Linked DNA regions of Homo sapiens: region 1 is linked to region 2. The links come from fine-mapping of genetic effects on plasma protein levels. Region 2 holds a variant in brackets. A gene starts in the other region. All regions are shown on their forward strands.

Region 1 (15,919 bases), not on the chromosome of region 2:
AAAGTAATTTTGTTGTTGTTTTGCAGGATATACAGTTTCTTTCACAATTATTCAACACCGTCATTACAGTGTGAAAGTAGCCATATGTAAAATGTGTGCAAATCATTGCAGCCGTGTTTTGCTAAAGCTTTATTTACAGACATGTGGCAGACCAGACTTAGACCATCCTGATAGTTTGCTTAGCTTTCACCAAGATTGTTGGAGTTGCCCTCTAACTTGAGTTTCTTTTTCTTTCTTTTTCTTTTTTCTTTCTTGAGATGGAATCTTGCTCTGTCACCCAGGTTGGAGTGCAGTGGTGCTATCTCAGCTCACTGTAACCTCCGCCTCCTGGGTTCAAGTGATTCTCCCGTCTCAGCCTCTTGAGTAGCTGGGATTACAGGCACACATCACCATGCCCGGCTAATTTTTATATTTTTAGTAGAGACGGAGTTTCGCCATGTTGGCCAGGCTGGTCTTGAACTCCTGACGTCAGGTGATCAGCCCACCTCGGCCTCCTCAAGTGCTGGGATTACAGGCGTGAGCCACCATGCCCAGCCTAACTTGAGTTTCTTAATCCAAAGTTGACACTACGACATTTCCACACAGAAGTCAGATTAAAAAAAAACAAAAACAAAAACAAAAAAAAAAACAGATCATACCTTCTTGTAACATAACATCCTTGAATTGCTTTCTACTGCAAATAAAATAAGTTATAAACTCTGCATCTTGGCCTAGAAATTTCTGCATGACCATGTCCCTGATGACCTCTGTGATCTCACTCATGTCATTTTCCCCCTTTCTAAGTTCCAGCCATCAGCTGCTACTCTTAGTTATGAAAACATAGCAAACTCGTCCTGCTTCTGACTTTTGTCCTGCCGTGTGTTCTGCCTGGAACCCTCATTTCTATGCTCTTTGCAGGTGTGTATCATTTCTATTCTTCTGGTGTCAGCTTAAAATTTCACCTTCTTAGTGACCATTGTTCTAAGCTAAGCATTCCCAGCCCATGATCTTTTTGATCAAGTGGTGATGTTACTCTGACTCATAGATCTACCATAGTCTCTATATTGTTTCTTTGACTGTTTTATTTTTACTTCTCCCACTAGCAAATGAGGAGAGTCCCATGAGGACAAGGTCCTGTACTGCTCTGTTCATCATGTATCTTGAGCACTAACACAATGAAGATTCTCCGTAAATAGAAATTGGGTATTTGAATGAATAAAATGAAAATAGAGAAAGCTAGGTGCAAATGAAGAGTCATTCTGCAAGGCAGGGAGAAATTAATTGAGAAAGTTTCTACCAGACAATGATAAAGAGTGACATAGAGAGGGAGAAGAAGAGGGAGAAAGGGGAGGGAGGGAGGGAGGGAGAGAGAGAGATAGAGAGAGAGAGGAATTGAAAAGACTAAACCAGGGAAGGTTCAAATTTGTGCTGAAGGGAACAGAAGAGCTGACTAAGACAAAATAAAAGACTTTATGTGGCATTGAATCAGCAGAAAGAAATTGGGAAACATGAGGTGCTGTGATCTGGATGCTTGTATGACTTCTTAAAAATTTTCTTGACACATATATTAATCCATTTCCACACTGCTATAAAGGATTGCCCCAAACTGGGTAATTTATAAAGAAAAGAGGTCTAATTGATTCACAGTTCTCTATGGCTGGAAGCCCTTAGGAAACTTAAAATTGTGGCAGAAGGCCAAGGGGAAGCAAGACACATCTTACATAGCAGCAGTGGGGAGAGAGAAACAGAGAGAGAAGTGCCACACTTAAAGCCATCAGCTCTTGTGAGAACTTGCTCACTATCACAAGAGCAGCATGGGGGAAACCACCCCTGCCCTAGGAACCCTCCTCACCCCATTATTCAATCACCTCCCACCAGGTCCCTCCCTCCACATGTGGGGATTACTATTCAAGATGAGATTTGGGTGGGGACACAGGGACAAACCATAACAACAGATATGGTATACCTTATTATTGTTATCATTACTATTATTATATTATAGACTTATGAAGCACTGCAGAAGTATATTCTGAAGGCTTGATGAGAAAAACAGGCCAGTAAGAACATTCTAAGCATTTGTCAGACAGACTCTTTTTAATGCTTTAAAGAAATGCTTTTCAAACATTAGTGTGCAAAAGAAAAATCTCCTAGAGAGCTTGTTAAAATACAGATTCCTAACAACCTCACTCTCTCATCCTAATTTAGTAGTGGTCCTGGGACACCACCCAGGAATTATTTTTTCATTGAGATTACACTCACCTGCTGTAAAATTCACCCTTTTAAAGTGCTCACTTTAGTGGTTTTCAAAAAATGTTCACAAAGTTGTGTAATCATCACTATTATCTAATTCCAGAATATTATAAGCATCCCCCAAAGCCACACCCATTACCAGTCACTCCCCATTCCTCCCTTGTCAAGACCCTGGCAACCACTAGTTTTCCTGTCCAATTGATTTGCCTATTCTGAACATTTTATTTAAGTGGAATCATCCAAAACAGCTTTTTGTATCTAGCTTCTTTTACTTTGCATAATGTTTTCTTTGTGCTGAATGAAATTAGCATAAGGCCCATCCATGTTGTAACATAAATCAGTACTTTTATGCTGGATAATATTCCATTGTAATAATATAAAGAACTCTTATACCACATTCTGATTATCCATTTTTCAATTGTGGACATTTGGTTGTTCCTACTTTTCGGCTATTACAAATAATGTTGCTATGAGCTTTCATAAGTATGTTTTTGTATTGACATATATTTCCAATTCTTTTTGTTGTATTCCTTAAAGTGAGATTGCTGGGTCATATAGAAGCTCTATGTTTAACATTTTAAGTAATTGTTAACTGTTTCCCAAAACTGCTGCGTTATTTACATTTCCACCAGTAATGTATGAGGGTTCTAATTTTTCCACATCCTTGAAACACTTTATATTATCTCGTTGTGGTTTTGATTTATATTTCCCTAAGCACAATGAAGAATACATTAGTTAATATTGATGTTGAACATTTTTTCTCATACTTCCTGGTCATTTGTATATTTTCTTTGAAGAGATGTATATTTTAATACTTTTCCCAATTTTAATAGCGTTATTTGTCTTTGTGTCACTGCACTGTAAGACTTCTTTATACATTCTGGATACTAGGTGCTTACCATGTATATAATTTGAAAATATTATCTCCCATTTCATGGGCTGTCTTTTCACTTTCTTGTTAATGTCCTTTGATACACAACTTTTTAAAATTTTAATGAAGTCCAATTTGTTATTTGGTTGTTAGTGTCATATCTAAGAAATAATTATCTAATACAAGATCACAAAGATCAAAGCCTAACTTTTTTCCTAAGAGTTTTATAGTTTTAGCACTTATATTTAGGTTGCTGATGTATTTTGAGTCCAATTTTGTGTATGGTGTGAAGTAGTGGTCCAACTTCACTCTTTTGTATATTGATATATGATTGCCCAGCATTATTTATTTAAAAGACTATTCTTTCTCCCATTTATTTATCTTGGCACCCTTGTTGAACACCAACTGATCATAAACTTATGGTTTTATTTCTGGACTCAATTCTATTGCATTGGTATATATTGTCCACCGTAGGCCAGTACTACACAGCCTTGATTGTTGTAGCTATGTAGCAATTTTGAAATTGAGAAGTATGAGTCTTGCAAATTACTCCTTTTTAAAGATTGTTTTAGCTACTCTGGGTCTCTTATTTCAGAATTTGCTTTTCAATTAGATAGAGTCCTTTTAACTTCTCATACTTTGTAGGCAGGGTACAAGGAGGCTGTGATTTAAGGTTTTGGTACCTACTTGATTAAAGATCCTGGGCTGACCTTGGTTGATTCCACAGTTTTTTTTAGCTTACATCATAATATCAATTTTGAGGCTTAGAAAATTTCTTATATCAGGATAAGAAGAATGAGAGTTTACAGATTTAAAAAAAAATATAACATTTCGTATTTCAAAATGCCAGAATTCTTTGCTCTGAGGAAAGTAACCGCATATGTAATCTGAGAGAACATGTCCCCAGCACTTTGCAAGCATAAACTAATGACTTCCTCTCTTACCTGTGCCTTTACCAGAGTCTAGCTAAAGACAGTTGGAGGAACAGGGAGTTGGCAGTCCTACTCACGGTAACTTCATAGTGTACTATAAATCACATGATGGCAAAAAGTATGCAGAACTTTTTCATTAAAGAATGTTCTTACAGAAATTCACAGTGAAAGAATCTGAACCATAACAGAGGATAGGAGAGAACAATAGAAAACACTTCAGAAGGGTAAAAACTGAGTTATTCCAGAAAAAAAAAATTTTGTAGATAAACCAGAATTAATTTTGCCCCAGAAAACTAATGTGAGTCCAGGTTAGATTGACTGATTGATTAATTGATTGGCCCAAAATGGAAGAAGACATCAAATGCAAATGTGAGACTGCCAATTGAATATAAAACAAAAATGATTTAATTAAACTTTGTGAAACACGTTGTCAATACTGGAATCAAAGTCGATGGATTATTGGAGTCAGTTATTGTAATTTTGGGACAGGCTTACAGAACAGGATCATATTTTGAAATACTAACTAATGTGTTTTCCTCCTGCGTACCCACAGCAGCAGAGTCAGCATATTCTATCAACTTGTTACTCCCACAGTGCCACATAGCACCTAACCTAAAACTAGCAAATAATCCACTTCCATTTAAAGGAGCACTAAAATTATAATGCTTTCTTGTTGCCACCATTGAATATCTACCCTTAGCAGCATTCAGCATGTCACTCATTGAGGATGAAGAAGTAATCATAACTACCTATTTATTTAAATCTTGCTCAACTTTTTTTCCAAAATATGACACATGGACAATCCCTTTCTCGAGGCCCTACTTATTTACAGGAACATTGCAGATATATTGTGGGTTTGGTTCCAGACCACTGCAAGAAAATGAATATCAAAATAAAGTGAGTCGCAAAATTTTTTTGTTTCCCTGTGCATATAAAAGTTGTGTTTACATGATACTGTAGTCTATTAAGTGTGCTATGGCATTGTGTCTACAAAATAAGAATCCCTTAACTTTAAAATACTTTATTACTAAAAACTGCTAACAATTGTTTAAGCCTTCACCACGTCATAATACTTTTCCTGGTGGAGAGTCTTGCCTCAATGTTGATGGCTGCTCACTGATCAGGAAGTTGGCTGCTGATGGTTGAGGTGGCTGTGGCAATTTCTTAAAAGAAGTCAGCAATGAGATTTGTGGCATTGATTGACTCTTCCTTTCACAAAAGATTTCTCTATAGCACATTATGTTGTTTGGCAGCATTTTATCCACAGCAGAACCTCTTCCAAAATTGGAGTCAATCCTTTCAATTCCTGATGTTGCTTTATCAACAAAATTTATGATGTAATACTCCGTATCCTTTGTTATCATTTCAACAATCATCACAGCATTTTCACCAGGAGTAGATTCCATTTCAAGAAACCACTCTTTGTTCATCCATAAGAAGTAATTCTTCATTTATTCAAGTTTTGTGATGACATTGTAGCATTCAGTCACATCTTCGGGCTCCACTTCTAATTGTCTTACTATTTCTACCACATCTGCAGTTATTTCCTCCATTGAAGTATTGAACTTCTTAAAACTATCCATGAAGGTTGAAATCAACTTCTTCCAAACTCCTGTTAATGTTGACATTTTGACTTCCTTCTATGAATCACAAATGTTAACAGTACTTAGAATGATGAATCCTTACCCAAAATTTTTCAATTTATTTTTCCCAGATCCATCAAAAGAATCACTATCTCTGGCAGCTACAGCCTTACAAAACGTATGTCTTAAATAATACTATTTGAAAGTCAAAATTACTTTTTGATCCATGGGCTGCAGAATAGATTTTGTGTTCACAGGCATAAAGGCAACATTAATTTCTTTGTACATCTCCATCAGAATTCTTACATGACTATGTGCATTCTCAATGAGCAAAAGAATTGAAAATACACTTTACAAGGGAGATTTACAAATGGCAAGCAAGCATCCTTAAAGGTGTTCAACATCATTAGTAATCATGAAATAATAATTAAAAGCTTAATGGGATACTACTAAATGCCTACCAGTAGCTACAATTTTAAAAAGAATGATGATGATGATATGGAGTAGTCAGGGCACACTTCCTTTGTGGGTGGGAGTATGAAATGGTAAAACTCTTTTGACAACAGTTTACAGCATGGCTTATTGAATATTTTGAGCCCACTGTTGAGACCTACTGCTCGGGAAAAAAATAATTTTCTTTCAAAATATTACTGTTCATTGAATTTCCTAGGAACCATTATGAAAATTCAACAGATGGCATATCTGTATCTGTTCCTGTACTTTAATTGGTTTCATGGGTCTCTCTGTCTCTCCTTACTCCAACTGTCCTTGTTAATGTGTTTTATATTGTGCCTTGAAATCAGATAGTGTGGTTTCTCTTTGTTCTTCTTTTTCAAAATTGAGCTGTTATAAGTCTTTGCTTATTCATATAAATGGTATAAGTGATGTATCAATTTCTCAAAAACAGCTTAATGTGATTTTTATTTAACGTTGCATTGAATGTGCACACTGACTTGGGGAGAATTATCAGCTTAGCAATTTTGAGTTTTCTAATTTATAAACATGATATTGACACTTTGTTATTTGCTTCAGTCTTTTTATCTTTTTTTTTTGCAGCCTTGTGATATACAGCATAGAATTCTTGTTCATCTTTTGTTCAATTTATTCTTAAGTGTTTTATAATTCTGATGCTATGGTAAATGGTATTTTAAAAATTCTATTTTCAAATATTTTGCTGGTATAACACAGAAATAAAGTAGACTTTTACATATTGTCTTTTTATCTTCAAATTTTATTAAATTCACTTATTGGTTCAGTATATTTTATAATTTATTTTTAGTTTTCTGTATTAATGACAATTTTATCTGCAAATAAGGACAGTTTTATTTCTTCCTTTTTCATTTTTATGTCTTTATTTCTTTTTTAAAACTTACTTCACTGCCTATAACCATTAGCATAAAATAGAGTTGAAATACTGAGACTAGAAATAATTGTCTTGCTCTTTTTGAAGTAGATCAAGTGTTATTCAAATCATTTGTACATTAATTAATATTTTTGTCTACTTCTATTAGTTACTTAACGGTATTAAAATTTCTAACTGTGATTGAAGATAATACCTGTTGTAAGTTCTAATTGGTAGTTTTGTTTCATGTAATTTGAAGCTTATTTAGTAAGCATGTATAAATTTATAATTTTTTTTATTTATTGACCATTTATCATTATGAAATGTGCTTATGTATCTCTGATAATACTTGTTTTCTTGCAGTCTGTTTTGCTGAATATTTATAAGGCCACTCTAGACTTCATATGGTACTGGTTGCATGGTGTTTTTCTTTCCATTCTTTGATTTTCAATCTGTATATGCCTGAATTTAAGCAATTTTTTTTCAAACCATCACAGAAAGCTGGCTGGATATAGTTCAATACAAAACTTTCACAACTTCCATTTACTACAAAGAACGGTCTTGTGCACAGCAACATTGTGGTCTATTTCTAATACATGAGCCACCACATGTTTTCCTGTTCTATGACATAATCCCTCCCGGTCATAGCATTCATCAGTCTGGTCTCAAATTCAAGTTAGGGAAAAAAAGTCAAAACTGTTTCTAACGTCAGAAATATATTGTGTTCCAAAGAAAATAACTTCCTGTCTGATTTACTAATACTGCAATTTTTGGAAATCAAAATGATTCAAAGTAAAATATTTTGTTAAAGCAATTTGGTCAATTTACTCTTCAGAGGAAGTCACGCTTTAAAATCCCAAAATGCTAGTAAGAAACTTATAGTCCAACATTAGCCAGAATTTCTAGGATTTTGTGACTTTTGGCTTGGCATTGCAACACCTTTTATGTCAGTGTGAGCAATTTCCTAATTCCCAATTCTTATACTAAAAAATAACATTTAAAATATGCATGAAAATAGTTATTCACTGGAAATTCATAATGAGATTTAATGAATTAGTGGCAAAAAATCAACTCTAAGACATATTTTTTTCTTATTTTTTTCTTTTGATCTTTGTTTTGTCGATGTGGTGAGGGCACTGGTGGTAGTGGTGGTGTACTTGTGTGTTTGTCTTTTAAGTTCATGAACATTGCCTGGGATACTTGTCAAATGTTAGGTCTTCCCTATTTTTTCAAGCAGTGACAAGGAAGGAAAAAGACGGTTTTGAATGTCTAGGAAATACAAAAATCACACATATACAAATATATTACAATTATTCCTATTAAAACGGCAATCCTGAGGTTCTACTATATATTAAATGAGAATTAAATATATTATGAAGTAATACAGAAGACAGTATCTGCTGAAAAATACAAGTTATGAAGGTAATGTTGATCAGAAATTATATATCAAACAAGCATTATTTAGCACAGTATTAGAAATCTAACTTACATAAAAGACTTTTGTAGTATAGAAATGCCTTCTCAAAGTTATTTAAAATATCTAACATTAAAATATACATACATATATATATATATATATATATATATCTTTCCTTAGCCCAGAAGAAATTTTTGAAGAAAGCAATGAAGACTTCCTGTTTCTGAAAAACTTAAGGCTTTTAGAAACATTTAAAACTTTAATTCTTATCTTTTTTTATCCTATGTAGCAACTCTTGTTGTCAACAAAAACTTTTCTAACGTTTGCACAGTTGGACAACAGATAACTAGCTGCCCCATCCACACAAGAGGTGGGGAAGAGAAGCCCAGCTATGATTATTTGAAATCTAGCTCAGTACAGACTAAGTCAAGGTTCATTGATTTAGTCCTCAAACAGATATAATCTGAAATGAGCAGCAAGGAAAATTAGATAATTGGCAAAAGGAAGAAAAATATTCCTGGCATTTCAAAGCAAAGGTGAAGCAACCCTGGAGCAAAGTCATTCCCTGGATGATAGTACTTCTTCATTGGACTACCAGCTCAATTTAGGAGACAGACTGCATTCACATTGCAAAGTAAACTCAGCAGTTGCTGGTGTTTTTTCCTTTTTCTTTGCATACATGCAAGTTACTCTATCCTCCACTTAAACTCTTATTGCCTTCCTTATACTGAAACACTTGATATGCTTAACCTGATAATAATTATTGCAATTATATAGCATTTCTTAAAGGTAATACAAAGAATGGTGAATATAAAAAATAAAATCTTGGAAAAAACATTTGAAAAGGCCTAACCTAAGCCAAATACTAAATCATATAATTAAAGGCTTCTCTAGTTAGAAAAAATCAATTTAGAATGACATACACACACTGTTAACATTCAACGCAGTGTAATGTAATCAGATTTTTCCATTGTCATTTATCTCCAACAATCTCTATGTCACAAAAACTATGTAATTTGGTTAATACATTAGTTATATGTATTTTTTCTTTTAATATCAAGTGCCTTGCCGGATTCTGAACATTCTTTTGAACAGTTTGAATTCAAAGACAGAAAATATCGTTGATATCATTCTAACTTTCCCTAAGAATAACCCAGAAATAATTTCCCACATAGGAGGCAGCCAATTCAAAATTGTAAAGTTTAAAAAAATACAGGAGTTAATGACAATAAACAGCCCCATTCTTTTCTCTTTAAGATCTACTTGTAAGGTAAAGAACACCGTAAAATTAAAAAGTTGTTATCATTATCCATCACCAAGTGCTCATAGACTGTTCGCTGTTGAACTAAGAAATTATGTGAGGTTGTGTGAGAAATGTAAGATATCGTCACTGATTTTAAGGAGTTCGTAGTTGACTTGAGGGAGATAAAAGTAAAATTAAGGAGTAATTAAACTCTGCCTCATGCAGTGGTTATTGTAAGTACACTAGATGTTCGAAGAGCAAAGGTGGAAGGAATACTCTATTCTGGCTTTGTCAGAATAAGCTTTTTCAAAGACAGGACTTTGAATTTGCCTTGAAGAAAGTGAGGGATATAGAAAGTGGTTTCAAGTTGAATATGTTGGAAGTCTCTTTTACCCTTGATATTACTGTGGTCCCAAAGATAGGAGTGAATGGATTGAGGTTCTCAATAACTTAAAATGTGGTTTCTGGGAAATATAATAAAGTGGTTACCCAGATTGTGGAAAGCCACTGTGGGGTGTTTGCCAGCAACTGTGAAGAAAGTGGTTTGTAATCTGGAAACTATTAAAAATTACTGGGGCACGTTCTCTGGTGTTTAACTGCCAATTCTGGATTTTCTATTACTTAACTCATTCTCTGGGAGAGAGATTTTTTTTTTTTTAATCAGCCTCAAAGAATAAATGTGAAGCTCAAGAAATAATGAGCATAAAAGTGTTTTGAACGCCACAAACTCTTTGGAATGTTTTCATTCATATTATATTAATCTGTGGTACAATGACTAAAATAGGATTGATTTTGACAGGGAGTAAACTTTTCAGGCCATCAGGATGCAAATGGCATTGGAAGAATTTTTCCCTTATTGTTGGGAACAAAAATAACACAGAGCTTTTCTCTACCAGCTGGACACAGTGCAGGTAACACAAATGGTTTTCCTTTAAACTAGTGAAAAGGGAGCAATGACTTTTAAAGTCCTATGTCTGTCGTAGTTCTTCATGCTTTCCATCTTAACCTCAGGGGATCTTTGCATCATTCATGTTCCCTCCTGTATTTTTACAAGGCCAACATCAGAGAATGCCTAGATAGAAGCCAGACATGGACAATGACCCAGGCTGATTTTCATGGGAAGCCAGGAAAAGCGACACATTGCTTCCTGATTAGGTTGGGTAACCCAACAACTCACTTTTATTGGGGACTTTCTATTACTTGCTTATCAACTGCAGAAATATTTTTTCTTCTTACATTCTATAAATAATCCTTTGTGAATTGATTCAGAGTGCAAAGCAGGTAAGACATGTGTACTTATAAGACCATCAGGAGGAACTGGCAATCTTGTCTCATGATTCCTCTCTGATTTTACCATTTGGTGCCAAAAACAAATTCATATGTTCATTTATGTTTAAAATGGCTTATTCAGAACTAACCCACATACAGACAGGGAGAGAGAGTTTAAAAGTCAATAACCTATGTCATCTCTAAACTTTTTTTTAAACAAAGCCTTATACTGTGGTTTATTCCCTGTGGTTAAGTTGAATTAATTGCCTAGGAGCTGAGTCACATTTTTGAAGTTTTGTCTTAGCCATTTCAGCAAGGCTTATCTTTTGTCTTTAGACACATTCTAATCTTTAAAATGTCAATATGCTAAATCTGCAGGCTGTTTTCTACAGATTACCACTCCCCAAAAAGATGAAGGATTCCATTTGCTGAGTCAGGTATGATGTTGATGGTGTCAGGAAGCTGTGAGAACTTCTCATTTAGCTTCCCACAAACTGAAGGCCAAACCACCCAGCCTTCCTCAGCCAATGAATTTCTTGTTTCCTTCCAGAATCAAAATTGTAAAGGTCTGTGACACCTCTTTCTTGCTCACCAATGGAGGTGACAGGAGAGGAAGTTAATAAAATTCCCCAGTGTCACAAGGGACAAGGAAAAGAGTTGTGTTCCATAACTGGCTTCTCAATGCCGTCATGTTTACTGATGACCTTTGCTGGCCTGCACTGAGGACAAAGTTCTTCAGAACCAGCCAGAAGAGGATCTAGTTAGACTTCTGTGAAAGAAAGTCTATGTGCCATTCCAGTGCCGTACTCATGCCTGCCATGGAGCAAGACGGTGGAAGACACTTAAACCTTCAGTGCTTTAACTCCTCCACGGATAACAAAGAAGGAGAGAGGGAGAAGCTGGAAGCTACTTCACCCTTCAATTTCAGGAGGCAGTGCAGGGCTCACTGGGGACTAGAACAGGTCTGCAGAAACAGCCTTGGTCACCAGTAATCATGAAATTAGATGGTTCCAGAAGCCTATGGGGAGAATTCCTCCCCCCATGAGGTTGTTTGGGGGAAAACAGACTGGGTGCTATTATGCTGCCCAATTGATGCAAATCTCTAGAAGAAGCTTTCACATGAGCCCCTCAAATTCATCAACCTCCTACAGCATCTCCAAATGGTGTCAAAAACACACCTGGGGGTGGGACCAGAGCTGGGGCAGGCCCGGGCTCCCTGGCAAACTTCAGTCTATGCTCACCATACTACACTTCACTCCCAATAAGACCAAAACCTCTTCCAATTCAATAGCATAGCAACCGCCAAAAGTACATTTTATCTTCCATGGCAATTTGCTGGGTGATTTTTGTTTGAAGATATTTTTGTTTATTAAACTGCCTCAACACACATATGCTTGCTAAACTACAAGTATACAATTTCTAATAAACAGATTTCACTTTGGGGCCAATTCAGGCAACTTGTTGACTTCAGGTGGGGATAGAGCCTCTTTCATCACGTTATCTTGGCTTCTAAAGCTGTTTGAAATCCAGATAATCAAAAAGTCATTCAAGAAACCTAGAATGACCTGCCTGCAAGAAGAGGAAGGACTCTCAGTTTAGGGCAATAATCATGAATAACATTTCCTGAATAATAGTAATAATAATTAGAAAGGATTGACTTTCAGAAATTTTTCTCAAGTCAAAGCTTCCACTACTATGGTTCCAACTTTTCTCTCTTTTTTTTAATTTTATTATTATTATACTTTAAGTTTTAGGGTACATGTGCACAATGTGCAGGTTAGTTACATATCTATACATGTGCCATGCTGGTGTGCTGCACCCATTAACTCGTCATTTAGCATTAGGTACATCTCCTAATGCTATCCCTCCCCCCTCCCCCCAGCCCACAACAGTCCCCAGAGTGTGATGTTCCCCTTCCTGTGTCCATGTGTTCTCCTTGTTCAATTCCCACCTATGAGTGAGAACATGCGGTGTTTGGTTTTTTGTCCTTGCGATAGTTTACTGAGAATGATGATTTCCAATTTCATCCACGTCCCTACAAAGGACATGAACTCATCCTTTTTTATGGCTGCATAGTATTCCATGGTGTATATGTGCCACATTTTCTTAATCCAGTCTATCATTGTTGGACATTTGGGTTGGTTCCAAGTCTTTGCTATTGTGAATAGTGCTGCAATAAACATTCGTGTGCATGTGTCTTTATAGCAGCATGATTTATAGTCCTTTGGGTATATACCCAGTAATGGGACGGCTGGGTCAAATGGTATTTGTAGTTCTAGATCCCTGAGGAATCGCCACACTGACTTCCACACTGGTTGAACTAGTTTACAGTCCCACCAACAGTGTAAAAGTGTTCCCATTTCTCCACATCCTCTCCAGCACCTGTTGTTTCCTGACTTTTTAATGATTGCCATTCTAACTGGTGTGAGATGGTATCTCATTGTGGTTTTGATTTGCATTTCTCTGATGGCCAGTGATGGTGAGCATTGTTTCATGTGTTTTTTGGCTGCATAAATGTCTTGAGAAGTGTCTGTTCATGTCCTTCATCCACTTTTTGATGGGGTTGTTTGTTTTTTTGTTGTAAATTTGTTTGAGTTCATTGTAGGTTCTGGATATTAGCCCTTTGTCAGATGAGTAGGTCGCGAAAATTTTCTCCCATTTTGTAGGTTGCCTGTTCACTCTGATGGTAGTTTCTTTTGCTGTGCAGAAGCTCTTGAGTTTAATTAGATCCCATTTGTCAATTTTGGCTTTTGTTGCCATTGCTTTTGGTGTTTTATACATGAAGACCTTGCCCATGCCTATGTCCTGAATGGGTAATGCCTAGGTTTTCTTCTAGGGTTTTTATGGTTTCAGGTCTAACGTTTAAGTCTTTAATCCATCTTGAATTAATTTTTGTATAAGGTGTAAGGAAGGGATCCAGTTTCAGCTTTCTACATATGGCTAGCCAGTTTTCCCAGCACCATTTATTAAATAGGGAATCCTTTCCCTATTGCTTGTTTTTCTCAGGTTTGTCAAAGATCAGATAGTTGTAGATATGCGGCATTATTTCTGAGGGCTCTGTTCTGTTCCATTGATCTATATCTCTGTTTTGGTACCAGTACCATGCTGTTTTGGTTACTGTAGCCTTGTAGTATAGTTTGAAGTCAGGTAGCGTGATGCCTCCAGCTTGGTTCTTTTGGCTTAGGATTGACTTGGCCATGCGGGCTCTTTTTTGGTTCCATATGAACTTTCAAGTAGTTTTTTCCAATTCTGTGAAGAAAGTCATTGGTAGCTTGATGGGGATGGTATTGAATCTATAAGTTACCTTGGGCAGTATGGCCATATTCACGATATTGATTTTTCCTACCCATGAGCATGGAATATTCTTCCATTTGTTTGTATCCTCTTTTATTTCATTGAGCAGTGGTTTGTAGTTCTCCTTGAAGAGGTCCTTCATGTCCCTTGTAAGTTGGATTCCTAGGTATTTTATTCTCTTTGAAGCAATTGTGAATGGGAGTTCACTCATGATTTGGCTCTCTGTTTGTTTGTTATTGGTGTATAAGAATGCTTGTGATTTTTGTGCATTGATTTTGTATCCTGAGACTTTGCTGAAGTTGCTTATCAGCTTAAGGAGATTTTGGGCTGAGACCATGTCTCTGTTTGTTTGTTATTGGTGTATAAGAATGCTTGTGATTTTTGTGCATTGATTTTGTATCCTGAGACTTTGCTGAAGTTGCTTATCAGCTTAAGGAGATTTTGGGCTGAGACCATGGGGTTTTCTAGATATACAATTATGTAATTTGCAAATAGGGACAATTTGACTTCCTCTTTTCCTAATTGAATACCCTTTATTTCCTTCTCCTGCCTAATTGTCCTGGCCATTGGAGAGGAGGAGCATCTCCCAGACAGCTGCGTGCCTCAGAGAAGCCAGCCTCGCTAACCCCTCAAGCCCAGGGGATGAGACCCTGCTGAATCGCTGCTCTATTTTGGCTGGAGCCACAGCTCCCTCCACCGCGGGGCGGGGCTAAAATGTCCTCCCCCTTAAGGGAGCAGGCAGCTCCTCCCAGCCACCCACCCCACCAATTCCCATCCTCCCGCCCCCCTCCACCAACCCCTTCTTTCCACACTGCCCCCTGAGTTCAGGGAATTTCCCCAGCATCCCAAAGCTTGAGTTTCCTGCCAGTCGGGAGGGATGAATGCAGATAAAGGGAGTGCAGAAGGCACGAGGAAACCAAAGTGCTCTGTATCCTCCAGTCTCCGCGCCTCCACCCAGCTCAGGAACCCGCGAACCCTCTCTTGACCACTATGAGCCTCCCGTCCAGCCGCGCGGCCCGTGTCCCGGGTCCTTCGGGCTCCTTGTGCGCGCTGCTCGCGCTGCTGCTCCTGCTGACGCCGCCGGGGCCCCTCGCCAGCGGTGAGAGCTCCTGGCACTGGGGTGCATCCCAGCCTCTGCGGGGCCGCTGCGTTCCAGGGAACTCTCCCAGCAACCTGCCCTATAAAAATGTCTTTCTTCCCCAGCTGGTCCTGTCTCTGCTGTGCTGACAGAGCTGCGTTGCACTTGTTTACGCGTTACGCTGAGAGTAAACCCCAAAACGATTGGTAAACTGCAGGTGTTCCCCGCAGGCCCGCAGTGCTCCAAGGTGGAAGTGGTGTAAGTTCTCCTGTGTTGCTGTGTCCACTGTGACTTAGGCAAGTCCTCCAGCCTGGGTCGTCAACCTTTGTGGCTCATGGGTGCATCCTCTTTTTCTTTACTTCAGAGCCTCCCTGAAGAACGGGAAGCAAGTTTGTCTGGACCCGGAAGCCCCTTTTCTAAAGAAAGTCATCCAGAAAATTTTGGACAGGTATTTGTCCCTTTGATCTTTGTGGTGTTTTAATATCTTCTATGGAAAGCATATACTTCACAATGTCCTTATTCTCTCTGTAGGATTTAGACTATGCTTAGAATTATAAGGTTGTTAAGAAGAATAAGGAAACTTTTTTTCTGGAATGTTCTGGGTAAACCTTTATCACCAATCTTACATGCCTGAACAATTACACAGAGCTCATTACTGACA
Region 2 (16,231 bases):
GCTATGAGGCTACTATGAATTTCAGATGCATTTCCTGAGCTGTCAATGAGGTGGAAAGATGAGATTGGCGTTACGAAGATTTGTTGCAGCTCCATTCAGTGTAATTGCAATGGAAGGTATAGAGACATTAAACCACCACCCAAGAAGAGCTGTTTATGTACATACAGTATAGAAATAGCTCACAAGACAATGATAGGACCAGGATGGGAATTTCTTTATGTCACTTTATTTGTCTTTTACATCTCCCTCCTTTTTTAGCTCACAGCTCAGAAGCACTGCAATACCAATTAGCTGCTGGAGGTTGCTTCCATAATGAGCTTGACTATGTCTTATGAAAGAGAGACAGGATCTTTTGGGTTACAGGGCTGTTATGTAAATTCTCTCTTTCCAACATTCTTTACAATCTTGGTGTCTAGACTCTGGTCTTCATGTTGCTGTCTCAGCCAGCCCTTTCCCACAGAAGAGTTACCATTTGATCTATGTCAAGAAGTGGGTAGGTCACCAGCAGAGTCTGCTTCTGGGAAGCATTTTGGGTATAGTGGTTCACCCAGAGCCTATGTCTGTGATAGCAGAAGAGAGATATTTGTGGCTAGGTAAGTGACTCTTTTAAAAAAAATCCTTTTGTTGGCCTTGCATGGCCCTCTTTTTAGATAATTTGGGAGTATTTACAATGTTTAGTATCAAGATAATATAAAGATATGGGTTTTGTCACAGACTGACCCTAATGGTGTTATATTTGAATGTATCTATGCTGCTTAAAAATCCCACAGAATGACAACTCTATAAATGGTCAACTAAAGTGAACATTTTCAAGGCAGTGCCTTCCTCTGTACCTTTAATACCATCAGCATGAAAGTGAGTAATGATTTATGGACAACTGTAGAAAAGTAAAGAAAATTCAATTACCTGACAATTGGGAGGTACGTTTTATGGATACGTGGTTAGGATATATTATACATAAGCTTACTGCATATAACAATTGTTCATTTAATGAATTTTAACTATAACCACACTTGAAAACTTATGCTATTTATCAAACAATTTTTTTTGTATAATGACATTTAATTCCCCAAATCCACTAGGTAACACATACCATAAGAAATCATTTTTCACATTATTATTTCAGGCAAGGACATACTTCTAATTTACTCAACACAATAGCTTCTAATCAAAGAATATCATGTGAAACAAATTTGAATTTCATGTCATGCTTGAATGAGTCCCCAGGTTTTGCATTGTATATGTAAGCCAAGTAAAAGGGAGGAAGATGTAGCAGCATTTCCATGATGCTATTTCTGTGTATTTCAAAAGTCAACTTTACCTTTTTTGGTCAAAGCTTTAAAGAAAAAGACAAGGCTGTATGATTCTAATATTGATTGTGCACATGAAAATCAGTCACCTGCCTTTCCACTACCTTCCAAAAAAGGCTCCACTGTAGAGCTGATGTGGTGATACACAGACTAGGTTTCCTTTTAGTACCAAAGGATTATTACTCAGTATTTAGAAGTACAATCCATTGACAGCTTTCAAGGTGCAGTCCTCTCTGGGAATTGCCCTAAGTTTAAGAGAACTACCGTGGCATTTTCAGGGGGCAGCCCGAATCCCACAACTGGTTAAAGTGAGCCTGTAAAATTCTGGCTTCTTCATTTCAATTCAGAACAATTTGGAAAGGCTGCCCCAACGTCAGAGCTATGAATGGAGTTGGCTGAGGACTTTGTTGAGACCACTCTGCCCAATCTTGCTTTCTTTTCTTCCATTTCACAGTATACTGATCTTGAGGCCACTCCTTAACACACTTTTGGCATGCTAATCTCTGTTTCAGGGGATGCTACCTCTAACAACTTTACATCTCTTTCCAATAACTGCCACTGATTATCACCCTTGATGAGTACAATAAACCTTCATTATCTTTATATTGTGTACAAGCTATGTTTGTTTACTATTATATTGTTACTTATATGAACTTGTTCTCATTGTTTGATTGATAGATTTTTCAATCTGTGAAATTATTTGAATGCATTGGGTTGGGATGGAATGCACCATAATTTTCCTCATTAAAATTCATAAGAGTATTATTTTACTTAAACACAGCAGCAAGACTTTAGGAAAAGTTAAAGTTGTTAAATGAGGTATAGATTCTATTAGAGGTTGTATCAGTCAGAGTGCTCTCACCTGCATTTAACAGAAGCTCCAACCCACTGTGACTTAAAAAATAAGGAAAAAATATTCTCTCGGTTGGTAGGAAGTTCAAAGGTAAGAAATTTCCAGAGCTTAATAATGTAAGAATTCAATAATGTGATTAGGGACCTAGCTTCCTTCCATCTTTCCATTCTTTCATCCTCAATATATCAGCTACACTTCACGGTCACAAGGTGGTGGCCATCACAATAGGCAACAACCCTGAAAGGCTAGAAGAGGGAAAAGGAATGTGACCCTTCCTTGGGTCCATCTCTGAGAACAAGAAAGTCTTCTCCTAAAGCTCTCTTATTAGACTTCACTCATGTGTCTCTGGCAAGAACTTTTGTCAAGCGTTTATTCTTAAACTAATAACTGACAACAGGAATAAAATTACCATGATTGTCTTAAATGGATCAGTATTCATCTTTTGGGCCTGGGGTTGTTCATTCCATTGGACAGCCTTCTGAAGCACAAGGATATCTAGTACTTGAATAGAAGAGGGATTCTGTTATGGAGGAAAAAAGAAAGAATGGCTGCCATGTAGGTGAGCAGTGATGTTAGAAAAGCCTATAAACTTACTTGCTAAGAATTCCTGCCCTTGTTCTTGACTTACAGGTCTCACTCATAGCTTAAATCTAAGAAGCATGATGTAGCAATGGCTTTAGGAGTAAAATTATTTTAAACATTATTTAATAATGAATATTTTGACATATGCCTTGTGTATTGAATAAATGTATGGATATATATATATGCATACATAACCATATACCATAGTCATGAATGTGTGTGTTGAGGACTTTTCAGGATGCATAATAGTTGAATTAAAAAATTAAAAATTTCATTTTTATTATTTATATAAATTGTTTCCCCACTTTATTAAATTCAAGCAAGTCACTTTTATTATGTTGGCATAGTTTATATGCAGGACTAAATATCTGTTTACTATATATAAAATACATATTCTTATTATAAAATAATTCATTCTAAATGTAGAAATCTTTGAATGTCTAAAGGAAACTCTTTTTTGTCTGGTAAGTCTATTATGTTTTCATGCAGCATATATAGCCAGTGGTTTATGGCTCTCTGAGTTGTGGTATAATGTGATATATATCATTTTATTATGTTTTAAAACTTAACAATATACCATAATTAGTTCAAGTGAATAAGTGAGGTTTCACCATATGATTTAGAATGGCTGCATAGTATTCCACTATATGGAAGTAACAATCAAGTAATTAACCTATTATTGTTTAGCATTTAGATTTAAAAAAATTTTTATTTTTAGCTATTGTAAAGGAGTTATAAGTGCATTTGGGTAAATACACTTAGTCAAAGCTTAGATAATTTCTTTAAGATGAATTTCTTGACAAGAAATTGCTAGATCAAAGGACACACATGTCTTAAAGAAAATTGATTCAAATTTCATGTAATAAAATATTTCTGAAAAATTTCTCTCTGTCTCTACCTTTTTAGCAGCACTAGGAATAGATAATTAAAACAATTTCCTAGGGGAACATTTATATGTTCTTTTTGTTGCTTTGCAAAATAACATTTTTTAAAATTTAAAATAAAATTAGTTTTTTTAAAAAAGGTAATATATAAAAATGGTTGAATGTCAAAAGTTACAAAGAAATCATGAAGTGAGAAGTAAAACTATGTCCTAATTTTTGTCCTCTATCCACCCAGTTTCCCTCTCTAGAAATCAGCAATTGTTTCAGTTATCTTTTGCCATACAAACATCCACCAGCCCCAACTTAATATCTTCAAAAAGTATATCTTATTTATTATTTCTCATTCTGTGGGTTGGCTTCGTGGTTCCACTGGTAGTTTTGACTGGACCCTATTGGAGAGTGATTATTTTCTTTACTTGGAGAATGATTATTTTCTTTTTAAAGGTGTGTTTAATCTGATTTTCCCAATTTTTTATTATGGTAAAACACACGTAACATAAAATTTATTATCTTATCTACTTTTAAGTGCACAGTTCAATAGTATTAAGTACATTCATGTTGTTGTGCAACCATCACCACATCCGTCTCCAGAACTCTTTGCGTCTTGCAAAACTGAAACCCTACACCCATGCAAAAATAACTCCCCATTTCCCCTCCCCCTGGCCCCTACAATGGCCACTCTACTTTCTGTCTCTACGATTTTAAGTACTCTCAGTACTTCATGTAAGTGGAATCATATAGTATTTGTCTTTTTGTGACTGGCTTATTTCACTTCACATAATGTCTGCAAGGTTCAATCATGTCGTAGCATTTGTCAGAATTACCTTCATTTTGAGGGCTAAAATAATGTTCCATTGTATGTGTGATGGTTAATTCTATGTGTGAACTTGATTGGGCCAAAGGGTGCCCAAATTAAACATTATATCTGGATGTATCTGTGAGGGTGTTTTCAGATGAGTTTAGCCTTTGAATGGGTGGATTTAATAAAGTAGAGCGCCCTCCCCAGTTGGGTGTCATCCAATCCACTGAGGACCTGAGTGGAGCAAAAAGCAGAGGAAGAAGAAATTTACCCCTTTTTGCTTCCTGCCTACCTGTTGAGCTGGGACATCAGTTTTCTTCTGTCCTTTCGCTGGAATTGATGCCATTCACTCCCTTGGTTTTCAGACCTTCAGACTCAGTCTGGAGTTACAATATTGGCTTGTCTGCTCTCTGGCTTGCAGAAAGCAGGTTGTGTGACATCTCAGCCTCCATAACTGTGTAAGTCAATTATTCATAATAAATCTCTTCCTTTATGTATATCCTCTTGGTTTTGTTTCTCTGGAGAACCCTGACTAATATGATATATGTATACCACATTGTACTTATCCCTTCATTCCTCAGTGGACACTTGGGTTGCTTACACTTCAGCTAATCATGAATAATGCAGCTATGAACATGTGTGTATGAATATATCTTCCAGACTCTGATTTCAATTCTTTTGAATATGTACTCAGAAGTGGAATTGCTGACTCATATTTCTTATTTTATTTTTAATTTTCTACAGTGGTTATATCATTTTACATTCCCACTGATAATTCATAGGGGTTCCCCAACTTCTTCACACTCTTGGCAATACTTATTATTTTTGTTTTGTTAAACTTATTTTTAATTTTTAATTGATATCTAATATTACATCTATTTATGGGATACATGTAATATTTCAATACATGTTTACAAATGTGGCAATCAAATCAGGGCAGCTGGGATGTCTATCAGCTCAAACATTTATTATTTCTTTGTGTTGGGAGTATTCTAATTCCTGTCTTTTAGCTATTTTGAAATATACAATAAATTGTTGTTAGCTATAATCACCTTACTATGCTATAGAACACTAGAATTTATTTCTCTGCTCTAACTGTAATTTTGTACACATTAAGCAACCTCTCTCTATCCCCCCACTCTCCTACCCTTCTCAGATGCTGGTAACCATTATTTATTTCTCTAATTTCCACAAATGTGTCAACTTTGCAATTTTCCTTTTGTTATTGGTTTCTAACTTCATCCTGTTGTGGTCAAAGAAGATACTTTGTATAATATCTATCTTTATAGCTCTATTGGGACTTAATTTAGGGCCCAAAATATAGCCCATCCTAGGAAATGTTCCACTTGCCCTTGAGCAGAATGTACATTCTACTGTTGTTGGATAGAGATTTCTGTATATGTCTGTTACATCTAGTTAGTTTGTGGTGGTGTTCAAGTCCTCTGTTTTCTTACTTATCTTCTGTCTAGCTGTACTAGCAAACATTAATATATAATGCCTTTTGTTGTGTCTTGCAATCTTGTATAAAATTTAAAGTCTATTTTGTCTGAAAGTAGTATAGTTACCCATGGTCTCTTGTGTCTATTATTTGCATAAAGCATCTCTTTCCATCCTTTCATTTTCAACCTATTTGTGTATTTAGATCTAAAGTGAATCCTTTGCAGATAGCAAATAGTTGGATCATATATTTTAAAATCTATTCCTCCAATCTCTGTCTTTAGAGTAGAGAGTTTAATCCATTTACATTTAAAGTAATTACTCATAAAAAAGACTTATTTATTTGATTTTGCTAATTGTTTTCTATGTACCTTATAGCTTTTTTGTCATGTGCTTTCTGCATTACTGTCTGCTTTTGTATTTAGTTGATTTTTTAAATGAAGCATTTTTCTTTACTTTACATTTTATTTATATATTTATTTTTCCAGATTTCTTAGTCTGTTTTTGTATTTTTTTAAAATATCAACTTTTATTTTAGATACAGGGGGTACACGTGCAGGTTTGTTACATGGGAATATTGCATGATGCTGAAGTATGGGGTACAATCCTGTCATCCAAGTTGTGAGCATAGCACCCAACAGATTGTTTTTCAACCCATGCCCCTCTCCTTTCCCATATAATAGTCCCCAGTTTCTATTGTTCCCTTGTTTATCTCCATGTATGCTCAATGTTTAGCTCCCAGTTGTAAGTAAGAAAGTGTGGTATTTAGTTTTCTATTCCTGCATTAATTCACTTAGGATTATGGTCTCCAACTGCACCTATGTTGCTGCAAAGGATTTAATTTCATTATTTTTTATGGCTAGGTAGTATTTCATGGTGTATATGTACTACATGTTCTTTGTCCAGACTGCCATTGGTGGGCACTGGGTTGATTCCGTGTCTTTGCTATTGTGAATAATGTGTGAAGAACATATGAATGCATGTGTCTTTTTGGTAGAATGATCTATTTTTCCTTGGATATATAC[CT/C]AGCAATGGGATTGCTGAGTTGAATGGTAGCTCTGTTTTGAGTTCTTTGAGAAATCTCCAGGCTGCTTTCCACAGTGGCTGGACAATACCCACTAACATTGTATACGTGTTTCCTTTTCTCTGTGGTCTTGCCAGCATCTGTGTTTTTTGACTCTTTAATAATGGCTATTCTGACAAGTATGAGATAGTATCTCATTGTGGTTTTGATTTACATTTCTATGATGATTAGCGATGCTGAGCATTTTTGCATGCTCACTGGCAGCTTGTATGTCTTCTTTTTAGAACTGTCTGTTCATGTCCTTTGCTCATTTTTTAATGGGGTTGTTTATTTTTTACTTGTTGTTTTCTATAGAGTCTGGATATTAGGCCATTGTTGAACACATAGTTTGTGAATATCTTCTCCCTTTTTGTAGGTTGTCTGTTTACTTCTTGATAATTTCTTTTGCTGTGCAGAATATCTTTACTTTAATTAGATCCCACTTGTGTATTTTTATTTTTGTTGCAATTGCTTTTGGGGGCTTAGCCAAAAATTCTTTGCCAAGACAAATGTTGAGATGAGTATTTCCTAGCTTGCCTTCTAGAATTTTCATAGTTTGAGGTCTTACATTTAAATCTCTGGTCCATTTTGAGTTAATTTTGTATATGGTGAAAGGTAGGGTTTCAGCTGCAATCTTCTGCATATGGCTAGCCAGTTATCTGAGCACCATTTATTTAGGGAGTTCTTTCTCTATTTGCTTTTTTGGCCTTGTCAAAGATCCAATAGTTGTAGGTGTGTAGCTTTATTTATGGGGTTTCTATTCTGTTCTATTGGTCTATGTGTCTGTTTTTGTACCAGTGCCATGAAAAAATGCTCAACATCACTAATTATCAGGGAAATGCAAATTAAAACTACAATGAAATATCACCTTACTCCTGCAAGAATGACCATAATTTAAAAGCAAAAAAAAAAAAAAAAAAAATTAGATGTTGGCATGGCTGTGGTGAAAAGGGAACACTTTACACTGCTGGCGGGAATGTAAACTAGTACAACCACTATGGAAAACAGTACAGAGAGTCATTAAAGAATTAAAAGTGGAACTACCATTTGGCCCAGCAATCCCACTACTGGGTATCTACCCAAAAGAAAAGAAGTCATTATATGAAAAAAACACATGCACACGCATGTTTATAGCAGCACAACTCACAATTGGAAAGTATGGAACCAACCTTAGTGAACATCAACCAATGAGTGGATAAAAAATATTATATATATATATATGAAATAATGTCTTTTGCAGCAGCTTGGATGGAGCTGGTGGCCATTATTCTAAATGAAGGAACTCAGGAATGGAAAACCAAATATTGTGTGTTCTCAATTATAGGCGGGAGCTAAGCTATGAGGATGCAAAGGAATAAGACTGATATAGTAGACTTTAATGGGGTTATTTTAATGGGGTTATTTATTGTTTACTTGTTGTTTCCTTTAAGTTTTCTATAGAGTCTGGATATTAGGCCATTGTTGAACACATAGTTCAATATCAAGATATTCACACAGTGAATATCTTCTCCCTTTTGTAGGTTGTCTGTTTACTTCTTGATAATTTCTTTTGCTGTGCAGAAGATCTTTACTTTAATTAGATCCCACTTGTGTATTTTTATTTTTGTTGCAATTGCTTTTGGGGGCTTAGCCAAATATTCTTTGCTGAGACAAATGTTGAGATGAGTATTTCCTAGGGATTCATAAGGGTGGAAGAGTAGGAGTGGGGTGAGGGATAAAAAACTGCGTATTGGGTACAGTGTACACTGCTCAGGTGACAGGTGCACCAACATTCCAGAAAGCATCACTACAGAACTTATCTATATAACAAAAGATCACCTGTACCCCAAAAGCTATTGAAATGAAGAGTAAGTTGTTTAATTTCCATTTATTTGTGTACTTTTGAGAAATCATCTTGATATTGATTTTTGTTTTTGTTGCACTCCGCTCTGAGAGTGTACTTGGTATGATTTCAATTTTTTAAATGTATTGAGACTTGCTTTTGTGGTTGATCTTAGAATATGTTCCACATGTGGATGAGAAGAATGTATATTCTGTAGTTGTATGCAGCTATGTAAACCTTTTCATAGGTCAAGAACTTTTTTTAATCTAGGCGCTCCAATGTTGGGTGCATATATTTACTATGGTTAAGTCTTCTTTTGAGATTGTACTCATTATCATTACGTAATGCCTTCTTCATCTTTCTTAATTGTTAAAGGTTTAATGTCTGTTTTATCTAATGTAAGAATAGTGACACCTGCTTTTTTTTGTTTCCCATTTGTTTAAAGTCTGCTTTATTTAATGTAAGAATAGTGACTCCTGTTCTTTTTTCCCCCATTTGTATGGTAGATCTTTCTCCAATTCTTTGACCCTGTGGATGTCATTACATATGAGATGGGTCTCTTGAAAACAGCAGATGATTGGGTCTTATCTTTTTATCCAGCTAGCCACCCTATGTCTTTTAAGGGGGCATTTAGACCATTTACATTCAGGGTTAGTATTGATATGAGATTTTGAGATTGAGATTTTGATATGAGATTTTGAGATCATATTTTATGGTATGAGATATGAGATTGTGTCATTAGCTGGTTGTTATGTAGACTTGGTTATGCAGTTGCTATGGTTATGTAGTGTCTGTGGGCTATGTGCTTAAGTGAGTATTTGTGGTAGCAGGTGTTATTCTTTTGATTCCATGTTCAGCACTCTCTGATGGACCTCTTGTAAGGCTGGTCTAGTTGAAATGAATTCTCTCAGCATTTGCTTGTCTGAAAAGGATTTTATTTCTCCTTCACTTATGAAACTTACTTTGGCAGGGTTTGAAATTCTTGATTGGAATTATCTTTAAGGATGCTGAAAATGGGCCTCAATATCTTCCATCTTGTAAGGTTTCTATTGAGAGGTCTACTGCCATCCTGATTGAATTCCCTCTGTACATGACCTGACCCTTCTCCCTGGCTGCTTTTAAGATTTTTTTTCTTTTGCATTGACCTTGGTAAATCTGATGACTGTGTGCCTCAGAGATCATTTTCTTGTGTATTATCTAGCCAGAGTTCTCTATATTTCGTGAATTTGCCTATTAACCTCTCTAATAAGATTTAGGAAATTTTCCTGGACTATAACCTTAAATATATTTTCCAAGTTGCTTATTTTCTCTCCTTCTGTCTCAGGGATTCCCATAAATTATAGATTTGCTTTCTTTACATAATTTCATATTTCTCAGAGGTTTTGTTCATTAATTTTTTAAAAAATTTGTGTCAGACTGAGTTGATTCAAAGAACCAGTCTTTGGGCTCTGAGATTCTTCCCTCAGCTTGGTTTATTCTGTTGTGAATACTTCCAATTGTATTATGAAATACTCGTAGTGAATGTTTCAGCTCAAGAAGCTTATTTTAGGTCTGTCTTATAAGTACTATTTCATCTTTCAGCTCTTGAATCATTTCACTGGATTGTTTGGCTTCCTTGGATTGGGTTTGAGCTGTCTCCTGGATCTTGATGAGCTTCCTTGCTATTCAGATTCTGAATTCGATGTCTGCCATTTCAGACCGGCTAATAACCATTGCTGGGAGCTAGTGGGCTTGTTTGGAGGTGAGGGGACACTCCAGCTTTTTGAATTGCTACAGTTCTTGCATTAATTCTTTCTCATATGAGAAGGCTGGTGTTCCTTGAACTGTGGTGTATATTGAGTATAGTTAGTGCATTCTGTTCTGGAGGTTTTCAGAGGGGTAAGTCTCTGTAGAGGGTTTTTTTATATTAAATTCTTATCTTTGGTTTCTGTATTAGTCCATTCCCATGCTGCTATAAGGACATACTCGAGACTGGGTAATTTATAAAGGAAAGACATTTAAGTGACTCACAGTTCCATATGGCTGGGGAGGCCTCAGGAAACTTACAATTATGGCAGAAGGGGAAGCAAACATGTCTTTCTTCATGTGGCAGCAGAAGAGAGAAATGCCGAGCGAAGCGGGGAAAGCCTGTTATAAAACCATCAAATCTTGTAAGAACTAACTCACTATCACTAGAACAGCATTAGGATAATTGCCCCCATGATTCAATTACCTCCCACCAGGTCCCTCCCATGACACATGGGGATTTTGGGAACTACAATTTAAGATGAGATTTGGGTGAGGACACAACAAAACCATATTAGTTTCTCAGTGGGGGGAAATTAGCAAAGTGTTTTTGGTGTTGTAGTTTGGACTGCATTCCAGTAGATAACACTTGAGAGCAATGGGTGGTAGATAGGCTCCTTTGTGTATCCTTGTGTTGCAGCTGTGCTCTGTGGTGTGAAGGGCAGAGAGGTGACCCCCACATGTTGTCCTTGTCTAATAAGTTAGAAATTGAGTGGGTCACCAAATTACAAAAAGAAAATCAACCTTATGAAGATTATCTATTTCAAAAAAGTAAGTTTACCTCTCAACACATGTCTCAATGTAGTTGTGGTGGTCAGTTGAGGTAATACTAAAGGAACCTTCCAACTCTTTTTTTTTTTTTTTGAGATGGAGTCTCACTCTGTCACCCAGGCTGGAGTGCAATGGCGTGATCTCGGCTCACTGCAAGCTCCACCTCCCAGATTCAAGCGATTCTCCTGGCTCGGCCTCCTGAGTAGCTGGGATTACAGGCGCCCGCCACTACACCTAGCTAATTTTTGTATTTTTAGTAGAGACGGGGTTTCATCATGTTAAGCAGGCTGGTCTCGAACTCCTGACCTCAGGTAATCCACCCACCTTGGCCTCCCAAAGTGCTGGGATTACAGGCATGAGCCACTGTGCCGGGCCCCAACTCTTAAGGAAAAACACACACACACACACACAAAAACACAGGTACTGGGAGAAATCTCTCAATTGATTTATGACTCTTACTTCTTCATAAGAGAAAAGTGTTGGACATTTGTGATAAAAATTAAACTGATTTACAATTTTAAAAGTGCCAGAGTGTGTTACACAAAGCATTAACCACCATCTAAGATGCTACCAGGATTCTATGTTTAGGCTATAATTCTTACTATGCCTCCATTATGAAAATTCAAAAAGCATTTTAAAGGCTCTTAGAAGTCTCACCTATGGAGTTTGGTTTAACTCAAGTTAAAAAATAGAGATATGCTATTCATTCTTTAATATTTATTGTCTGTTACCTAAATACCAGACACTATACAAGATTCCTTGATACAGCATAGTCACCTTTTATGGAGCTTACCTTCTAATGGGTGAGGCCAAGAATAAGCAAGTTAAGAAATACATTTTAAATAAACTTACAGGAAATAAATATAGATTTTTATAAGCCTAAGAAGGAAATGACCAAGGTGGTGTAATAAAGAAAGGTCAGAATTGACCTAGAATGGGTGATCAGAGGCATCTTTTCTGAGTTATGGTAGATCTATGATTTTGTACAATCTACATCTTCCTCTTTATTTTACTGGAGTATATCCTCAAAAAAATTTATGGAAAGGGCTGCATGAGAGGTAAACCTCTGCAGTTTTCACATGTCTCAAAATAGGTTATTTTTGTTTTCTTATTTAATTGACAGTTTGACTGGATATAGTAGTCCTTTCATAACTTTGAAGGTCTTGCTCTGTTGTCTTCTCCCTCCATTTTTTCTGGATCATCTGATGCCAGTCTGATTCTTCTTCTTTTTTAGGAGACCTCTATTTTAATTCCATAGGCTCAGCATCTGGTGATACCTGCAATAAATGGGATATAAGGCATTGTCTGAATAAATCGTGGAGGATGGTAGCAAATGTTCCCAGCATTAATCCCTAATATTTTTCTCCACTAAATAGCAGCTTCTGGGACTGTGCTTCCTAGAGCTATATAAGGCTATATGGAAACAGTCTTCACTCAGTGGAATGGTGGTGTCCATAGCAGCATGGGGTCATGGTTTTGAAAATTCCCAGGCATTCATTATACTAAAACAAATCCATCAAATACAAGAAGGATTCTTGTCCTTTCTCTGATTTATCCTCCACACATGAAAAAGCAGACTTCCACAGATGCATAAACTTATAACCAATGGCAGGGCCAAAGCCACAACTTTATTCCATATGCAGTTGTTTAACTGCTTTTTTTTTTTATTAACAGAAATACCATGGTGGATGTAATCATAAAGTTACTTCATTTTTTATCTACTATTCCTTTAAAGGAATAACAGCTGTTTAACATCTTCAGTCCACTGTTATAATAATTGTTGTTATTATAACATATAACTTAAATATAATAATAATTAGTATTGTAACATAGTTATAAGAAGAGAGAAGGGCTTAGAGGAAAGCAGCAGGAGCTTGACAAATACCTGTATGATTGTCTAGATTCCACTCTCTTTGGGTTTGTCAAGTTTAAAATCTGACACATTCTTTGACAATACTTTTTTGAATTCTTTGAAGATATCGTATGTATCAGACACCTCATATGCCTTACCTCCCATCTTCTTGACTAATGACCTTTTGCTTCAGTCACTGCTCTGAGAACCACAGAGTTCAGAAGTAACTGGTTGCATCTTATCTCTGGTGCACCATACATTTCTTTCTTTCTGCAGTGTGGATTTTCTGATGCTACTGTGTATGACACCTCTGGGAACCCATTTGAAACACACAGGCAAGTATGAGGGAGTTGCTGCCCCATAGATAAATGCTTTTTTTCCCTGTCTCTCAGGAAGAAAGTGGACATTTTTAAAAATTTTAATTTTTGATTTTTATGAGCACATAGTATGTGTATATATTTATGAGGTATATGAGATATTTTGATACAAGCATACAATGTATAATAATCACACCAGGGTAAATTGAGTATCCATCACTTCAAGTATTTATCATTTCTTTTCGTTACAAACATTCCAATTATACTTTTAGTTATTTTTAAATGTACAATAAATTATAGTTGACTGTAATCTCCCCATTGTGCTATCAAATACTAGATCTTAGTCATTCTATCTAACTACATTTTTGTAGCTATTAGCCATCCTCACTCCTGCCACCCCATTACCCTTCTCAGCCTTTGGTAACTATCATTCTACTCTCCATCTCCATGAGTTCAATTGTTTCAGTCATTAGTCCCACAAATGAGTGAGAACATGTGAAGTCTGTCATGTAGACAATTTTGAGACACATTCTACCTTGCTCCTAGCTCAATAACACACTTGCATAAGCTTTCCTCTATTCCTCTTATTTCTTGCCTGTTTCCCACTCCTTTTCATTCACTTTACAAAATAGCATATCTGTATTCAAACTCTTGTCTCAGGCTCTGCTTTCTAGGGATAATCCATACAAAATCATACAATCAGTTCCCTTGACATGAGTAAATGCACGCATTCAGCTGATCCCAAACTACTTCTTCAGTCTGTGGGCAGCCCATGGTTTACTTACAGCTTCTCTCTCCTGTCTTTTTGTGCCTGCAGAGTCTTCTTGGACAGCACCTAAGATGGTGCCTATTTCAGCACTCTCTTTGCAAAGAAGCCCATTTCTGGTGCATAGAACACATACAAATCCTAAGTGACAAAAACTCTGGGCATGCAGGCTGACTCGAACGCACCCATCTTTCTTTGTTCTACTACCAGTCAGCCTCTCTTATGTTAAATTTTTCAGGAATGGGGAGGACACAAAGCCACTGTGGCAGCAAGGCTCAAAGGACTCATTTTAAACTCTCCAAGTATTTTCCTCAAAACTCATTCCCTGCCCATTATGGTCTCCACTTTGAGGGCAAGGTAGGATTCATAGCATCACAGCAGCTCTCTCCAAAATATTAACTTTTAATTTGACCCTTTTATCTTCTCCAAATTTCTTTCGTAGTATAAAGGTGGATCTTCAACTAAGAATTGCAAAAACTGGTTATCAAAGACTACCTTTACATGTCCTGCATAGATACCTCACAACTTGATTTGAATTGTGACCTTTATTGTCTTGGGACCTCAGCCAAGAATAGTTCAAACTGAATATTATTACATATACAAAGAAAAATAGTTTTATGGGTGCTCTGAGTCCAAGATCTGATTAGGATACAGAACTGTTTGATTGTAATTAATGTTGTGGCATATTTGAAATAATTATAAGGATGGAAAGTTCCTAGTGCTTAAAGAAGAGTGAGGGAGATAACAAAACATTAAACTTAAGCTCTCTCTCAATTTTAGGAAATAACTGATGGACAAGTAGATATTGAATGAATTATGTATGATGGCTCTTCCAGCACTCAAATCCTTTGTTTATTTCTTTGTTGGTGATTGAAGATATAACCATTTCCTCATATAAAGCGGTTTTCACAAACTTTCTATAACTGTATTTTGGGGCCTCAAAAGGAAGAAAAAAATGATCAAACTGATGAAGAAAGAATGGGAAAATAAAAGGAATAATTATAAGCCAGAGTAAAAAATACTACTTAGGCATATACCAATTATTTCTGCAAAATCCACAATTTATGGAAAGAAATCTCAATGTTCACATATTGATCAGCTTTTTAAAAAAATTATACTTTAAGTTCTGGGGTACACGTGCAGAATGTGCAGTTTTGTTACATAGGTATACACGTGCCATGGCGGTTTGCTGCACGAATCAACCTGTCATCTACATTAGGTATTTCTCCTAATGTTATCCCTCCCCTACCCCTCAACGCCTGACAGACCCTGGTGTGTAAATGCAAATCAAAACCACAATGAGATACCATCTCACGCCAGTTAGAGTGGCGATCATTAAAAAGTCAGAAAACAACAGATGCTGGAGAGGATGCGGAGAAATAGGAATGCTTTTACACTGTTGGTGGGAGTGTAAATTAGTTCAACCGTTGTGGAAGACAGTGTGGCAATTCCTCAAGGATCTAGAACTAGAAATACCATTTGATCAGCTTTTATTCATACCCACAAAGAATACTTTGTAATAGAGATTTCTCACTGATTTGGGGAAAAAAAAGTGTATTCCATTAACGTATTAGATTACTGCTTCATCTCATCAACTCTTATTTTTACCACCACAACAAAACAGCCTATTTAAAAGCAAATATTGTACCATATCAATCCTTCATTAATGAATGAGCCTAACGAGCAGAGAATTGTCCAGGTTCTGTTCACTATCTGGCTATTCATAGTAATGCATTGTCTGAAATAAAGTCAGATTTGGGTAACTCTTGCACCAAAGCCACTGACAAAGATTTATATGGTTTACCATAATGAGTTGACTTCTCTTTGGATAACGACAGTGACTAATGCTGTACCTATCTTGGTGGAGGCATTTTTTTATCTTATCCATGTTTTACGGAAGGTGATCTTTGGTTTACAGAATCGTGGAACTGGAAAATATATTTAGTGTTTACCTCATTCATTCCCTTATTATGAATGAGAAAATTGAATC

Which allele goes with the higher level. Positions count from the first base shown, and alleles are read on the strand shown. Strength reflects both the effect of a copy and how common the allele is.
As copies of C replace CT in region 2, the plasma level of the protein whose gene starts at base 15,098 in region 1 goes down (weak association).

The links. A credible set is the group of variants that fine-mapping cannot tell apart. PIP is the posterior inclusion probability: the model's chance that the variant is causal. The UK Biobank Pharma Proteomics Project read protein levels with antibody pairs (Olink). The fine-mapping took linkage between variants from a reference panel, not from the people measured, so its PIPs are less certain.
Region 1: CXCL6 starts here. The variant in region 2 is the best candidate, but not a certain one, in a credible set for the plasma level of the CXCL6 protein (UK Biobank, PIP 0.53).

The regions. Positions count from the first base shown.
Region 1 is chr4:73,821,581-73,837,499 of GRCh38, forward strand. It overlaps CXCL6 (C-X-C motif chemokine ligand 6), which reads left to right and starts at 15,098. Exons shown (of 4, transcript NM_002993.4): 1 at 15,098-15,279; 2 at 15,384-15,516; 3 at 15,623-15,706. The coding sequence starts at 15,171. RefSeq lists silencers at 11,172-11,466, 15,072-15,366.
Region 2 is chr3:18,190,401-18,206,631 of GRCh38, forward strand. The region is part of intron 4 of BALR6 (B-cell acute lymphoblastic leukemia associated long RNA 6); the gene reads left to right. LOC124909351 (a long non-coding RNA gene) reads left to right here. Exons shown (of 2, transcript XR_007095842.1): 2 at 1-3,628. Among named protein-coding and RNA genes, the nearest start is that of SATB1, 230 kb to the right of the region's middle. The variant CT/C (reference allele first, on the strand shown) is at 6,891.